Regions from separate parts of the Homo sapiens genome. Here regions 2 and 3 are each linked to region 1. The links come from fine-mapping of genetic effects on gene expression. A gene starts in region 1. Each other region holds a variant in brackets. All regions are shown on one strand. Distances are between the middles of the regions.

Evidence for each region.
Region 2: its variant is fine-mapped to the expression of CST3 in whole blood (TOPMed, PIP 0.93).
Region 3: its variant is fine-mapped to the expression of CST3 in whole blood (TOPMed, PIP above 0.99).

Annotation. Positions count from the first base shown.
Region 1 is chr20:23,635,353-23,640,501 of GRCh38, forward strand. It overlaps CST3 (cystatin C), which reads right to left and starts at 2,603. Exons shown (of 3, transcript NM_000099.4): 1 at 2,268-2,603; 2 at 1-15. The coding sequence starts at 2,510. RefSeq lists silencers at 2,138-2,387, 2,418-2,757.
Region 2 is chr20:23,663,204-23,668,453 of GRCh38, forward strand. It overlaps LOC107985383 (a long non-coding RNA gene), which reads left to right. Exons shown (of 5, transcript XR_001754712.2): 3 at 3,135-4,299. Among named protein-coding and RNA genes, the nearest start is that of CST4, 23 kb to the right of the region's middle. The variant T/G (reference allele first, on the strand shown) is at 2,999.
Region 3 is chr20:23,752,761-23,758,010 of GRCh38, forward strand. No RefSeq gene overlaps it. Among named protein-coding and RNA genes, the nearest start is that of CST1, 4.5 kb to the left of the region's middle. RefSeq lists enhancers at 1-443, 3,802-4,552. The variant T/G (reference allele first, on the strand shown) is at 2,050.

The DNA.
Region 1 (5,149 bases):
CACCCCAGCTACGATCTACACATGTGAAAGAGCAGGAGGCAGGGACAGCACGTTCTGTCAGTTTCTTACACACACAGGCACTTCACTGTGACCGGGTCACTGGGCTTGCCTGGGGCTTCAAGCCTACCTTCATGAGCTGCCCACATTGTCACCTGCAAGGCACACAAGCCACCTCCTCCTGCCAGCTGGCAGGGATGCCATGCCCCAGGCCTCCCCGGTAACTTGTTTCTCTATGCCAATGCCAAGGATTAACTGAATTCCGCTACCTATGACCCAGGGGGCAGGGACACTGGATCTATTCTAGGAAGGTTCTCATGTGATGATGAAATTTCGGCAAACTTCCAGTTCCTGGCATTCAGTCCACAGAGCATCTCATTCCTGCCATTTAACCCAGAGGTATTTTTCCTCATTTCTCACTAGGAGATGAGATGCTCACATACATTGATGTTTTAGGCCAATAAACATTGCTTCCCACGTGCTTCCATTCCAGGTGTGATTTTCAAGGCAATATTTCTAAAGTGAGTCACACACCTGCATGTCTTAGGGTTGCAACTTCAGAAGAGAACTGAATGCTTTCCCTGCACAGTGCCGCCCCAAAACATGACTTGTCAGAACTGTGGAGAAGCATGGGATGAGGGACCCTGGGACCAGGGTGCTAGACCTTGCCCTGTGGAACCACACACAAGTCCTGTAGAAGCACAAGCAAGGCCTGTGATCCCTCTGGTGTCAGTCTGCTCCTCTGTAAAATAGGCTCCAGGGCCCAACGATCTACAATGCCCCATGCTTCACTCCCAGTGAGAGAGAGGTGCAGGCCAGCGGGGACCCTACACCAGGGAATGGCCCTCCTGTGCAGGGAGAGGGCCCCAGCTGACGGCTGCGGGAGAAACGCGGCTGGTCTGGACTCCTCTGAATTTCCAAGAGAAGGTGGAGGAGCTCTAAAGTCTGTGTCACTGTTCGCTGCTCTGCCATGGGATGCAGGTCAAGCTGGGCCTGGTAGCCCTACTGAAGCTCCCTCCCGATCCGACCCCCTACTCCGGTCTGCTGGGTGTCTTCATCTGGCTGAGGTCTAACTCTGCATCAGCTGATAGAGGCAGGGTCAGGCATGCTCCACCCCAGCAGGGACTCAGCTGCCCTGGGATGTAGGGGGTGGTCAGCCGGCCTGAGGGTGAAGGCCGCTAGTCCTAGGGGACTGTGCCCAGGGGTGTGACTTGGGGAGGGAAGCAGGGCTCTGCAGGACAAGGTGCCAGGCTCACGTGTGGCCCCTGCGGAGAGTATTCTGGGAGGAGGATGAGCCGCATGGCCTAGATCTCATCTTGAGCAGCATCAAGCCCACCCAGAGTCAGCATAGTCTCCATCCACACCTGCTAGACCCTGGGAAATGGCACGGTCGTGGCACAGACCCAGCTGCTGCTGCAGGTTAAAAGAGGCCGAGGGGACAGGACAGGGCTGAACTCATGCACTCATGGCCCAGGAGCGTCCTAGGGCACGAAGGCCGTCAACAGACAGGGAAAGCTGAATGAGTCTGAGCATTAGATCATGAATGTGTCAGTGCTGATTTTCAAAATGGAATAGTGATTATGTGCGATATTGCCCTTGTTTTTAGGAAAAACACACTGAAGTGTTTACTTTCAAAAGATTCAGGCAAAAAATGCATATACAGTACATATACACACACCCATATTCACATTCGGAAAGTGAGCTGGGGGGAACAAACAGGGCAAAATGTTAACATCTGTGCTAACATCTGAGGGATCTGGGTGAAAGATCTACAGGGATGCCCTGTGCTATTTTGCAGCTGCTCTGTAAGTCTGAAATTACGGGAGAATAAAAAGTTAAAAGAAACAAAAGTGCTTAAAAATTATTTGGTGGAAGAACAAGGAGGCAGCCAGATGAGGGGCTCTGTTTTTCCTTCTCCTGCGTATTCAGCAGCGCACCCGGAGCCCAGCGTCCCAGGAGGTCGGGACAGAGCTGTGTGGGACGTCCTGTGCCTGCCCCCGCGCTGCGGCGCAGCTCGAGCTGGCTCCTGGAAGCTGATCTTAGGCGCCGGGCGCGGACCTGACGTGTCCGTGCGGTTCCAGGCCAGGCCAGACTCAGGGCATTCCCGGACACGCCCGCCAAGGGCTCGGGGGTGACAGCGAAGACCGGGAACAGGGTCCGGGTGAGAAGCCCAGGCGCCGGAGAGGAGCAGCACGGGGTCCGGGAGCAGCGCGGGGGGAGGCTGGGACGGCGGGGCCGGGGCTTCGGACCCTGCGGGGGGCGGCACGCACCTGCTTGCGGGCGCGCACCACCTGCAGCGCGCGGCTGTGGTACATGTCGTTGCTGGCTTTGTTGTACTCGCCGACGGCAAAGTCCAGTGCACGCCGCACACCCTCCTCCTCCACGCTGGCGTCCATGGGGCCTCCCACTAGGCGCGGCGGCTTGCCGGGACTGGAGCCGGCCGCGGGGCTCACGGCCAGGGCCACGGCCAGGATGGCCAGCAGGAGCAGCGGGGCGCGCAGGGGCCCGGCCATGGTCGGCTAGGACGCGGGACGCGGGGAGTGGGGCGCAGGCGAGAGGCTGGAGCTAGATAGAGAGGACCCGCTGCGATACCGAGGCGAGGCCGTGAGCCCCGCGAGGCCGGCGACTGCGGTTTTATCCCTTCCGGCCTTCGCCGCCCCACCCCACCGCGGCCTGCACTCCCTTTTCCGGAACGCCTCGTCCCTCCCACCTCCCTTCTCCCTCCCCGCCTCCCCTGCCTCTCCCCGCCTCCCCTGCCTCTCCCCGCCTCCAGGTCCCTCCCTATCAGTCTCCTCCCATCCCAGCCTCCCCTGCCCCTCCAGGCTTCCCTGTCCTTCCCCATCCATCCCCTTCCCTCCCCTCCCAGCCCCTCCCGGCCTCTCCTCTCCCTTCCCGCCTCCCCTCTCCCTCCCCTCCTCCCCTGGCCCCCCAGTCTCCCTGGCCTTCCCTATCCATTCCCATCCATCCCCTCCCCTCCCCTCCCCCTCCTCTCCTACTGTCTTCCAGCCTCCCCTGCCTCTCCTATCCTCCCCATTCCTCCCCATCCATCCGACCATTCCCACCTCCCCACTTCGGGCCCCTCCATGCCGCCACTCTTCAGGCTCCTTCTCCTCTGTCCCTTTCCCCTTTCAACCCCCAGACACCGCCTCCCATGCCCCTCATCTCCCTCCTCCACTCCTGTCCTTGCTCCCACTTCGCCCCCACCCCAGCTCGGCCCCTCTTCATCGCCCCTCCCTCGTCCCGCCCCTCCTCTGTCTTCCCTTCCTACCCATTCCTGGCCTCTCCCTGTCCCTGTCCCTCCTATCCTCTTCTTTCCCCTCTTCTCACCCCACTCCTGGCCCCTCTTCCCCCACCCCTTCCACACCTATGCCCCCCTTCTACCCACTCCACCCCCTCAGCTCCATCTCTTCCCAAAGACCTGTCCCTCCTCCCAAGCTTAGGTCACCCTGCCCTCCAGAGAGGTGTCAAGGCCCCCTGGGCCCTAAAAGCATACGACCCCCTAGCTTCATTTCCTCAGAAAAGGGAAAGATAGAGGTCTCGGCCTTCCGGAGTCTTCAGAGGTCCTGAGTATCCGTGAGCATTTGGTCAAGGTCTAGAAATCACTAAGGCAGAGGTGTGATTCCAGAGGCCACAGGAGACTCAGGCCATGCCCTGTGCTAGGGAACTTTTCAAACAGAAGAATTAACCTTTATTTGAGTAAAAAACTCTGGGTTCTCCTTTCACAACTCATTATTCAGTAAACAGACTTTTCACCAGCTTCCCCCTGCACCAGGTAGTCTAGGAGCTAGAGACGGAGCCTGGGTGACCGAGCCATGGACACTACATTGCAGGGCTGCTGCCAGACAGAAATGTGACACGAACCCAGGAGCAATTTAAAACTTTCTGGGAGACACATTTCAAAAAGTAAAAAAGAAACAGGTGAAGGTAATGTTTATAATATTTCTTACTTAACCTAATATATCCAAAATATTATTTCAACACATAAGAAGAATCATTAATAACATAGGTTATTTTATTTTGGGTGTGTGTACTGAGTCTTTGAAATTCCCTGTGTATGTGGGTGTCAATTGTACTGGCCCCATTTCAAGCACCCTGTGGCCACATGTGGCTGGTGGCTGTGGCACTGCACAGCCCAGCATTAGGGTGTGTGGGAGGATGGCGAATAGTGATCAATAATTAATATCAGGAAATTAGTCTCTCTGTTGGAAGTGAGAGTATGGGATAGAGAGAGATGATGCCACTGGACCTGGTCAGGGAGGACTCTATGAGACTGGAAAGGTGAGAAGCCCTGCCTAGACAGGAAACAGCCCCAGGCAGCGGGAAGGGCCAGTGCAAAGGCCCTGAGGCGGGGCTGGGCATGCCTGCTCCAGGAAGAGGAAGCTCCTGGAGGGAGTGTGAGCAGGGAAGGGAACGATCTGGAGTCTCATGGTAACTGTGGGTGGGGCCGGGTGGAAGGTGCAGTGAGACCCATTGGCAGGCAGTGGGGGTGTCAGGAGAGGGAGCAGCAGCCACAGGATGAATGTGGGAGCCCACGGGTGTCTCTTGCTCCTCCCCTCTGGGCGTCATGCTGCTGGCGCTGGTCCTCTGCACTGCTTGGAAAACTCACCTGAGTTTAGAACATCACTGTGAGTGAGGTAGAATTTATAGACAACAAAATGTCTAATCTGGGGGATTTCATTAACGCATATACCCGTGTTACCACTTTGTCCAGACCTGTGACATCTGCCTTGCCCCAGACGGTGTGTCCTCCTGCCTCTGCAGCTCACCCTCATGCCCATCCTGCCCTGGCAGCCCCCATCCTGCCCTATAGACTCGTTTGTCGCCTGTCCTTGAGCTTCCCAGAAATGGAGTCCTGCAGAGCAAGCCTGGGTGTGTCTTTGTCCTTTGCTCAGTGTGGCTTTCCAGTGGGCCCTGAGTTCCTTCATTGCCAGGATTGTGAGTTCTTCTCCCCAGACTGAGAGGACCTGATCAGCTGGGTGCCCTGTGGGGTGACAAAGTCCCCAGCTTGGGATGCTGCGGACCTGGGCTGGAATGTGACTCCAGGAGTGGCGAGGGTGGAAAGGAGGCTCTGAACAGACAGCTGCTCCCTTTGTTCTCTCAACCCCACCCTCCATGCCTGAAGGTGACCCTGTGGCAAATGCCCTTATGGCGA
Region 2 (5,250 bases), 28 kb after region 1:
CCCTGTGCTGCAGAGGGAGGTGCAGGTAGAGTGAGTGGTGGGGAACGTGGCTGTCCCTTGTGAGGCAACACATCTGGGGGAAGCAGAGGGAGCTCCTTCCTCAGTCTCTGCCCATGCATTCTCTTCAGTGCCCTAGTCCCTGCCGTCTCACACCCCGTTTCTCTGCTCCAAGGAACAGTACAGGGTGTGGACGCTGGTGAAACACATCCGTAGTAACCAGCTGGCCTGTAGCTTCATGGTACTGTGGCTTGGCTGGAAGTCCATGCTAGGATGGGAAGCATGAGCCGGGACTTTCCAACAAGCTGAGCACACAGGCCTGTGTGTGCTGGGTGGGGCTGGGGTCTCAGTGCTGAGGCAGCACTTTGCTGTATTTTTAATTTTTAATTTTTTGTAAAAGATAAAAAGATGATGGAAGTATGTCAGGAGGACACAGGAAGCAGCTTAAAGGGGCTCTACTAGTCAACTCTGAGAAAATTTAAACATTCAAATAAATGATAGTAATAGATTACAATTCATTGAATAAAATAAGAAACCATGAATCTTCTAGATCTGTGGATAAATAGATGATTAACAAATAGAGAGATGGAAAGATAGATACAGATAAAGGAGAAAAGTTCTTCCTTGGAGTAAAAAGAATGCCATTAATAAATATAGAAAAAATGAAGCAATTTTATTTTTCTATATTTATTAGAAAAGAAGTAATAATAAACTTTTTTATTGTAGTTTTGAAGTGACTTCAAACTTACAAAAAGCAGCAAGAGTAATATAAAGAGCTCCTGTACACACCCAGACCCTCCCACTCCTCACATTGTGTCTCGCGCGCTTTTCCCTCTTTCTATATGTGTATGCACTGTTACAGCTTTTCCTGAGCCATTTCAGAGCAAGCTGCAGGTGTGACTCCTTTTGTCCCTAGACATTCTCATCTGTGTCCCCTAAGGCCAAGGACATTCTCCAGCACAGCCTCAGTGCAGTGAGAGGAATCACAGCACTAGCATGGGTCCACATTGTCGTCTAATCTGTCATCCATGCAATTCATCAACTGTGTGTCATTGTCAGGCCGCCTCAGTCTCCTCTGATCTGAAACCGTTTCTCAGTCTTTCTTATCTTTGTAATCTTGTCATTTTTGAAGATAACTGGCGATTTCATGGAATGTCCTCAACTGGGCTTTGTCAATGGATGAGATTCAGGCTATGCAGATTTTCAGAGAAGAATTGTAGATGTGATCTTGTGTCCCTCAGTACCTCCTACCAGGAGGCCATAACATCGCTGTCCCATGGCTGACAGACACTAACTTTGATCTCTAGGTTCAGATGGTATCTGACAGATCTCTCCACAGTATGGTTTACTCTTCTCTCCTTTATAATTAGGAATTATTTCACTGAGCAATACTTTGAAATATGTATTTATGTCTTACTTATAAAGTTTTCACTTTTGCTTTCTAGCTTTAGCATACAATAATAATTCCTCTTCGAATCAATTGTTATTATGATTGCTTTCAAATTGTATTCCTAACTTCGTTTTTAAAACATACTTATAAATGGCATTCATTCTACTGCAAGGAAACACTTTTCTCTTTTACCTACCTATCCATCTATCTGTTAGTCATCTATTTTGCTATAGATCTATCCCACTCATGGTTTCTTATTTTACTCAGTGAGTTAGAATGTATTGCTCTTGTTTATTAGAATGTTAAAATTATCTCAGAATAGGCTAGTGGGAGCCCCTTTAAGCTGCTTCCTGTGTCCTCTTGACATATTTCCATCATTATTTGAGCTTATCCTTACTTTCTGATATAACAAGAAGTCCTAGATTTATGTTTTACTTTCTCTGATCCAAGGTGAAAATCAGTGGTTGGAATCTGCAGTGAATGCAGAAAGCAATTCCCGCGTGCTGCCTGTACTCACCACTCCTGGAATGCCGTGAGGCCTCAGTCAGAGATTCTCAACCTGGGGCAATTTTGCTTCCCAGGGCACATTTGGTAATGTCTAGGGATGTGTTTGGTTGTTCCAATTTGTAAGGCAGGTGCTACTGGCATTTAGGGAGAGAGGGCAGGGATGCTGATCAACATTCTGCAATGCATAGGACATTTCCTAGGTCTCACATGGCCACAGTGCAGAAGTAGAGGAACCTTGTTCTTGGCCTTGTCTGTTGGTCAGTGCTACAAAATACACACAGAAACTTACCCACGTGTAGATAGCTATTGTTCTATTACCTATTTACGTATTAAAAACTCTGAGTTAATATTGACACCAAACCCAATGCAATGAGATTCTTTCCAGTCCCCTCCTTTCTATAGTTGTGGCTCTTTTCTTGGACATTTATAAATCTTAGTTCCATTATCATCAATATATTTACTTGCTTTCTCTGTACTAGAACTCACAGAAGGTGAAACATTATTCTAGATCAGTGTTTCCCAATTTATCTTCACAGGACACTCTTTCTCATGGTTGCTGATACATGTTAGCCCTTCCCCGCAAAACACAAAGGGTGTGAGGAACAGAATCGTCTAGGAAAGTTGGAAGAGAATGAATCAGATTCTCATTGCAAGTATTTTTTGTTTTAATGAATATTCTAATGTGCATTGGTATCTCTGAATGGAGGCTTTTGTATACAGTATAATTTCAATGTATTCTTCAGGGAATCTTTGAAAATGTAATTAGCAATATATATTAACTCATAGCCACATTTGTGCTGTGTGCAACAGTTTGCAAACACTGTTTTAGATCTTTTGCACCCTGCAAGGAGTTTTTCTAGAATTTTCCATGAACATAAAGAGTTTCATGCTTTTGCGGAAATTCATTACTGAGAAATATTTATACAGCAGGTTTTCTCTGTAGTAGTACACTATTGCATGAGACTGTGTATGTGTGTTTGAGATTGTGTGTGTGCATGCACCTGAACAAGGCACCAATCCCTCAGGAGCCTGAGAGCTGCCCACTACGGGTCCCCTGATGGCTCACTCCATTCAACAGCTCTTGTGTTCCCCCGGAAGCCCTCA[T/G]CGCTCTTCTCTGAGGTCTCTGGGTTCCCACTGCAGCATTTGTTATCACTGTCGTAGTTCAGCAGCACCATGGCATTTTCCTAGGGTAGCATCACATTGAAGATGCACTCACTTTACCTCCTGTGCTTCCTTCCAGTGGGCTCAACCTACTCCAAGGCACCCTCTTCTGGTGAGAATCACAGGCCTAGAAGGAAAGAAGGGGATGTCTATCAGCTGCCATGCCTGTGCCTCTCTGCTTCCTTTGTTCCATGCACATGGCACACTGTCTACTTGCTCAATGCTGTGGTCTCAGCCCTAGCACTGGACTCAGTAAGGAATTAGTTGAGCGAATGAATGGATTCTCCAGCAATCTTTATAAAATATGTTTTCCACATTTTTCAGACAAGGAAACTGCAACAAAAAGTGTCAGACCCCACACTGTGATCTCAACACTGCTGAGCTCTGCCTGGAATCTTGGAACTCTCCAGCGATCTCCTCTCCTTAAGAGTGGACGTGGGATGCCTCCACGCATTCAGTCAAAATAAGGTTATGGTGTGCCTGTTGTGTGCTAGGAATTATCTTCTCATCAGAAAAAGAATCTCTCTATGTTTTGGGAATAAGTGAAGAACAAAATGATGATGTGTAAGAGGTTCTTGCCAAATTGGTCGGCACAGAGAAGCCCTGGAGAAAGGCTGACAGTATTGCTGGTGGGGGCTCTGCTGGCTGGTTTCCAGGACTCTTCCTCTGGGACAGCTTGTGCTTCCTGCCACCCTCCCCAGGGTCATTTCTTATCCTTCCCCAGTTGCATTTTGATATTTCCTTTTAAGATTTTACTGTTTTTCAAAAGATCCAAAAGTAATTAAAACTCTAGCCATTGAAATGGCAGTTCTAACAAGTCGTCTTAGAGTCATTGTCACCTCATGGGGCTGCTAGCAAGGTATCCATATGAAATCATCTTATCCACACTGGGAAAGTCTCTGACACACCCATAAAGGCATGTTCATCCAGTATGCACACTGAGTGTCCTCCACATTCCACAGATTGTGAGAAGCACAGACACATTACAGAGAATGAGATGGATACAATATTGCCTTAAACGAACTGGTGGCCAAGCCAAATTCTAACTGCAGAGAATGATCAGGAAGGAGCGATTTGAGGAAATAACATGTGAGCTAGACTTTTAAGGAGGAGAAAGAGCCAGCTGCAGAAAGCCAGCAAGAATGGTGTTTAATGCAAAGAAAATCATAAACCGACCCCTAGCTGGAAATGATCCTAACCTGTGGAAGCTCCTGAATTGAGTGAGGAACCGGCTGGCAGGAGAGGTAAGCAGACTGGGTTTGGTGGATGAGCAGATATCAATTCCTGCCATGCCTTGCACACCGTGCTGAAGAATTTCTATTTTACTCCAAGTGAAATGAGAAGCCTTTGAAAGCTTTTACCAGGACATGACAAGACACCTTTTATATTATTAGAAGGCTGGCATGGCCACAGGGAAGGAACAGGCTTCTAGTTGGTGAGAATGGGAGGGTGGAGAACAGTCAGGAGGACATTGCAGTTGCTCAGGAAAGAGAGGACAGTGACCTGGGCCTGTGCCGTGGCCGGGAGTTGGAGCACAGGAGACTCAGGATGCCTATGAGAGGTGGCGGGGCAGGACTTGCTGAGGGCTGGGTTGAGGGCGCAGTGAGGAGGAAAGAACAGAACTCCAGCCCAGGCCTGAGTAAGTCACAGGATGGTTACTCAGCCAAGGCAGAGGTGAGGATGAGCAGATTGTCAGGGCTGGGGCTTTGGGGAGGAATCCAGAGCCGTCCTCATAGAGTGTTGGGGCGTTATGCATGTAGGACTGTGGATCTCAAATGCCACCCCGTGGATCCAGCTTAGAGGTTCAGGTTTTACGAGAGTGCAGGGGAGGGCACCTCTCAATTTTGATCATGGACTTCATTTGGGGCAGTACCACATGGTTTTCCATTATGAATTAGTGATAGTCAATTTTAATCTTTGCCAACCATATTTGGAAAATTAACATTAGCAATTCTTAATCTAAAAAAGCATGGATTACAGGAACCCAGAGTCTATAACCCATGGCTTGGAAGGTGTCTGAGAGAGATCCTGGGCTGTGTCAGATTTCGCAGAGAGGGTGGGTGGCTGACCTCTGAGAGATGGAGGGCTTCTGACAGGAACTAAGGTGGGAAGAGTCTCGCAGAGCGGCAGTCTTCCTACCCCACGATAAAGAAGGTGACAATATGTTGAAATATGACATGTGAAGATGAAGAGAT
Region 3 (5,250 bases), 120 kb after region 1:
AGTTGGGTGTCCTATGGGCTGACAAAGCCCCCAGCTCGGGATGCTGTGGGCCTGGGCTGGAATGTGACTCCAGGAGAGGAGAGGGTGGAAGGAGGCTCTGAACAGACAGCTGCTCCCTTTGTTCTCTCAACCCCACCCTCCATGCCTGAAGGTGACCCTGTGGCAAATGCCCTTATGGGGAGGTGGCAGGCTTGGCCAGAAGCTACAGGAAACCCTGGACCTTAGCAGGACACCCAGAGGACTCTCCCAGGAGTGGTGGAGGTGAGCGTTGGCCAGTGTCAGCCCAGACCTGTTTAGAACACTAAACAATACTATAATAAACAAATGACCAAGTGCAGAAACCATCACATAAAGGTGCAAGTGATGAGGACAAGCTGGCCAAGAGTCATCCTGGGCTGGGACATGGCTGGGGCTGGATCAGCAGGAACCCGGCATTGGGAACCATATTACTCATGGGTGCTCATGTTCAGTATTAGTACAGGGAACCTTGTTACCTGAGGCCTGGTGACCATCTCACCCCACTGTGAATCCAGCACCCCTAGAATAGCCGTGCAGCCCGGCAGATACAGCAGGTGTACCGAAGGTGTTTACTGCTGGGTGAAGGAGGGAAGGTCTTCAAACAAAGCTGCACATATGCCTCCTAGTTAGACAGGAAATGGGGAGAGATTTCCAAAGAAGGGAAAGAGAAGGAAGTCCCTTACCAGGTGTTTGGGAGCAGAATGGTCATCTCCAAAGGGTAGGAGTTAGTTCTCCTCTGTGGCTCCCACCTTCCTGGGACAGCTGGGAGTCCAGGCTCAGGAAGACATGCTGTGCAGAGGGTAAACTGAAGGTCAAGCAATCCTCTTGTTTTTTTGTTTGTTTTTGTTTGTTTGTTTTGTTTTGTTTTAATCATTGGAAAGGAGATGCAGGTAACCCAAATAGCGAGAATGTGCTGGTGGGTGGAGTATGAGGGAGGGAGGCCAGAGTGCTGACCTGTGCCCTGTATGTGATGACACCACCAGTGGTCATCTTCTGTCTGGGCACTGGCATGCACTGCAGGGAGGGTCAGCTGTTCTGATGCAGCAAGCTCTCTAATCCCAGTAGGAAAAATACCAGTGTACATTGCTCTTAGGAGGAGGTACAAGTGCGATGTCCAGTATGGAGTGATAGGAAGTAGCAGGTTGAGGTAGCTGGCCAGCTGCTCCAGATGTTTGATGACCTTAGGCAAATGGTGTGTCTGTCATGCATCTGGAGAAAGAGGCTACTTTCTAAAGCATAGTATCTGGGAGTTAAGACCAGCAGAGATGAGCAGACTTCAGCAGTGATGTATCAACATGGTTAAAAATGATGGAGTAGCCAGGTGTGGTACTGCACCTGTAATCCTAGCTTATTAGGAGAGTGAGTCAGGAAGATTCCTTGAGTCTAGAAGTTCAGTTTCAGCCTGTGCAACACAGTGAAACACCCATCTAAAAAAAATGGCAGAACACTTTGTTCCCTGATTTCTATAGTCCACAGTTTTAAGGACACACTAGAAGAGGGCCAGATAGCAACCATGGACTGAGGAACAAGCTTGGGGCCTCCAGCACCCATGTAACCTAGAGGAGTCCAGCTGCCCAGGAGGGGGCATGTTTTCCTTCTGCTAGGTGACAAAAGAGAAAGCTGTGTTCCCCTAGGCTGCACAGGTGAACTGATCTGATTATCTGAATTAGTAGGATGAGAAATTAGGTGAGTGGCAGAAGTTCTCTGCAATAAATGACCAATAATAAGTGAACACTAAACAATACCATAATAAATGACCAAGCGCAGAAAGCATCATGTAAAAGTGCAAGTGGTGAGGACAAGCTGGCCAAGAGTTGAGATTCTGCACAACTGGGTTTTGAGCAACTAACAGTTTGGTCTATGGTAGGAGCTGGGACTGAACAGCCACAGGATTTGGTGGCTTCTCAAATGGGAAGCCCAGGAGCCTCCTTTATGGAGTGCCTGGAATTCTCTGGGGTCAAGCTCATCTCTTTCACACTCCATCCTTCCTTCTTTTCTCCCTCTCCTCACACATCGTGGACACGTGGATGC[T/G]TCTAAATTATGGGCCCATGTTGGTAACACATTTGGCTCTGTTAGGACATGTGGATGCTTCTAAACTATGGGCCCATGTTGGTACCACATTTGGCTTTTCCACATCATTAGGAAACTGATACTCATGGGGAAGCCTGCTGGCAGCCCCGGCTGGGAAAGGCAAGAGAGGGCAGAGCCCAGTGTCAGGTCTGATTGTTTTGCACTCCGTGGGGAGAAAGAGAATCCTTTCTCTCAGGGACCAGCACATGAATGGTATTCCTGGCTCTGGAGTACAAGTTAACATTTATTTTTCAAAAATCAAAAAGAGCATTTGTCAGTGCAGATTCACTGACTGAAGAACCACATATGAATGGAGGGGAGTAGGGGCGGCCTCCGGAACTCGGGCTGCTGGCTGCTGCAGCCAGGGATCCATCTGACTCCCTGGGCTACAGCCTGCAGAGGCCTGGCCATGAGGAAAACAGATGACTCTGAGGAGGTGAGTCATCTCCTTGACATCTCTGGGTGGTCAGACTTTCTTATCCTGTTTGGGTCACTGCTGGGACTTCCCTGTCACTGTTTGTGTAACCTTAAATATCAATTCCTTTAGCAAAATGCAGTGACTGTGGAGATTGGTTCCTCTTCCTGCTTGGAATCCTGTTCAACTCAATCACTGAGTGTTGGAGCTGGAGCCAGAGGCCATCAGGACAGCCCTGCTCCCTCCTGTGGCCCTGCCTGCCCTTTCCTCCTGTCACAGAAGAGCTGGATCCAGTGACAAGACTCACCTTGACCAAACCCTTGTTAGGCTCCTCTGAGCCTTCCTCTGCCCTGGTCCTCAACCCTAGTCCCCAGCCCTGGACCTCCTGTTCTTGCGAGGGCTTCATGGCCCAGTTTTAGGAAAGAATCCTGCTAAGTCAGTTTAGAAAGGCTCCCCCCCACCCTTGGTATCTGATCACCCTCAACATCTGACCAAGTTCTTCTTTCCTTTGATGTCTAAGGCTTTGTCCTGGCTTTAGCAACAATATTGTTAGGTCAGTTTATCTAGAACCTCCTACCTTTGATGTCTCTGCTTAGTAATTCTGTTTGAAACCGTTCCAAAGCTACTTTAATAATGACCCAATCATTCCATACTGTAAGTGAGATGATTTTACCCTCCCTACTTGCTTGTTTTAATTGTTTTCCAATTTTTCTCCAATCTTTTAGATCTAAAGTTCCCTGTTCTAGAAACCATGGGCAGAATCGTTCTATTGTTTGAAATAGCGTGATTTGATTTTTTGTAGAAACACTAACTCCCCCACTTTTTACAAAAATTTTAATAGAGCTGAGATAAGAGGCATATTTACTTTAGTTTGCCCCATTGTTACCCTGGCTTCTTTCGAGCTTACCACAAGGCTGACTGTAGACGTACTCGGGAATCTCTCATCAACTTGTCCTCAGTGACCACGCTTGAGCGTACCTTCACCCTAGAGGAAAGCACCCACGTTGGGCACCAGATGAAAGGGTGGCCAGCTGCTCCACACCTGTGGGCATTTCTCATTGGGTGGGATGAGAGACTGAGAAAAGAAAGAGACACAGAGACAAAGTATAGAGAAAGAAAAGTGGGCCCAGGGGACAAGTGCTCAGCATAGGGAGGACCCACGCTGGCACAGGTCTCTCCGTTCCCTCAGTATTTATTGATCATTATCTCTACCATCTCAGAGAGGGGGTTGTGGCAGGACAATAGTGTAATAGTGGGGAGATGGTCAGCAGGAAAACATGTGAACAAATGTCTCTGTGTCATAAACAAGGTTAGAAAATGTGCTGTGCTTTGATGTGCACATACATAAACATATCTGGTGCATTAAAGAGCAGTATTGCCAGCAACATATCTCACCTCCAGCCTGAAGGTGGTTTTCTCCTATCTCAGTAGATGGAACATTCAATTGGGTTTTACAAGCAGATATTCCATTGCCTAGGGAGTAGCAGGAGACAGATGCCTTCCTCTTATCTCAACTGCAAAGAGGCCTTCCTCTTTTACTAATCCTCCTCAGCACAGACCCTTTACAGGTGTGGGGTTGGGGGATGGTCAGGTCTTTCCCTTCCCACGAGGCCATATTTCAGACTTTCATATGGGGAGAAACCTTGGACAATACCTGGCTTTCCTAGGAAGAGGTTCCTGTGGCCTCCTGCAGTGATTTGTGTCCCTGTGTACTTGAGATTAGGGAGTGGTGATGACTTTTAACAAGCATGCTGCCTTCAAGCATTTGTTTAACAAAGCACGTCCTACCTAGCCCTAAATCCGTTAAACCTTGAATCAACACAGCACTTGTTTCTGCCAGCACAGGGTTGGGGGTAGGGTTACAGATTAACAGCATCTCAAGGTAGAAGAATTTTTCTTATTACAGAACAAAATGGAGTCTCTTATGTCTACTTCTTTCTACATAGACACAGTAACAGTCTGATCTCTCTTTCTTTTCCCTACACACATCTACATGGAAACTGAACAACCTGCTCCTAAATGACTACTGGGTAAATAATAAAATGAAGTAAAAAATGAAGATGTTCTTTTAAGCCAATGAGAACAAAGACACAACGTACCAGAATCTCTGGGACACATTTAAAGCAGTGTGTAGAGAGAAATTTATAGCACCGAATGCTCACAAGAGAAAGCAGGAAAGATCTAAAATCGACACCCTAACATCACAATTAAAAGAACTAGAGAAGCAAGAGCAAACAAGTTCAAAAGCCAGCAGAAGACAAGAAGTAACTAAGATCAGAGCAGAACTGAAGGAGACAGAGACGCAAAAAACCCTTTAAAAAATCAATGAATCCAGGAGCTGTTTTTTCTGAAAAGATCAACAAAATTGATAGACCACTAGTAGACTAATAAAGAAGAAAAGAGAGAAGAATCAATAGACCCAATAAAAAATGATAAAGGGAATATCACCACCAATCCCACAGAAATACAAACTACCATCAGAGAATACTATAAACAGCTCTATGCAAATAAATTAGAAAATCTAGAAGAAATAGATACATTCCTGGACGCATACACCCTCCCAAGACTAAACCAGGAAGAAGCTGAATTGCTGAATAGACCAATAACAGGCTCTGAAATTGAGGCAATAATTAATAGCCTACTAACCAAAAAAGTCCAGGACCAGACAGATTCACAGTTGAATTCTACCAGTGGCACAAAGAGGAGCTGGTACCATTCCTTTTGAAACTATTCCAATCAATAGAAAA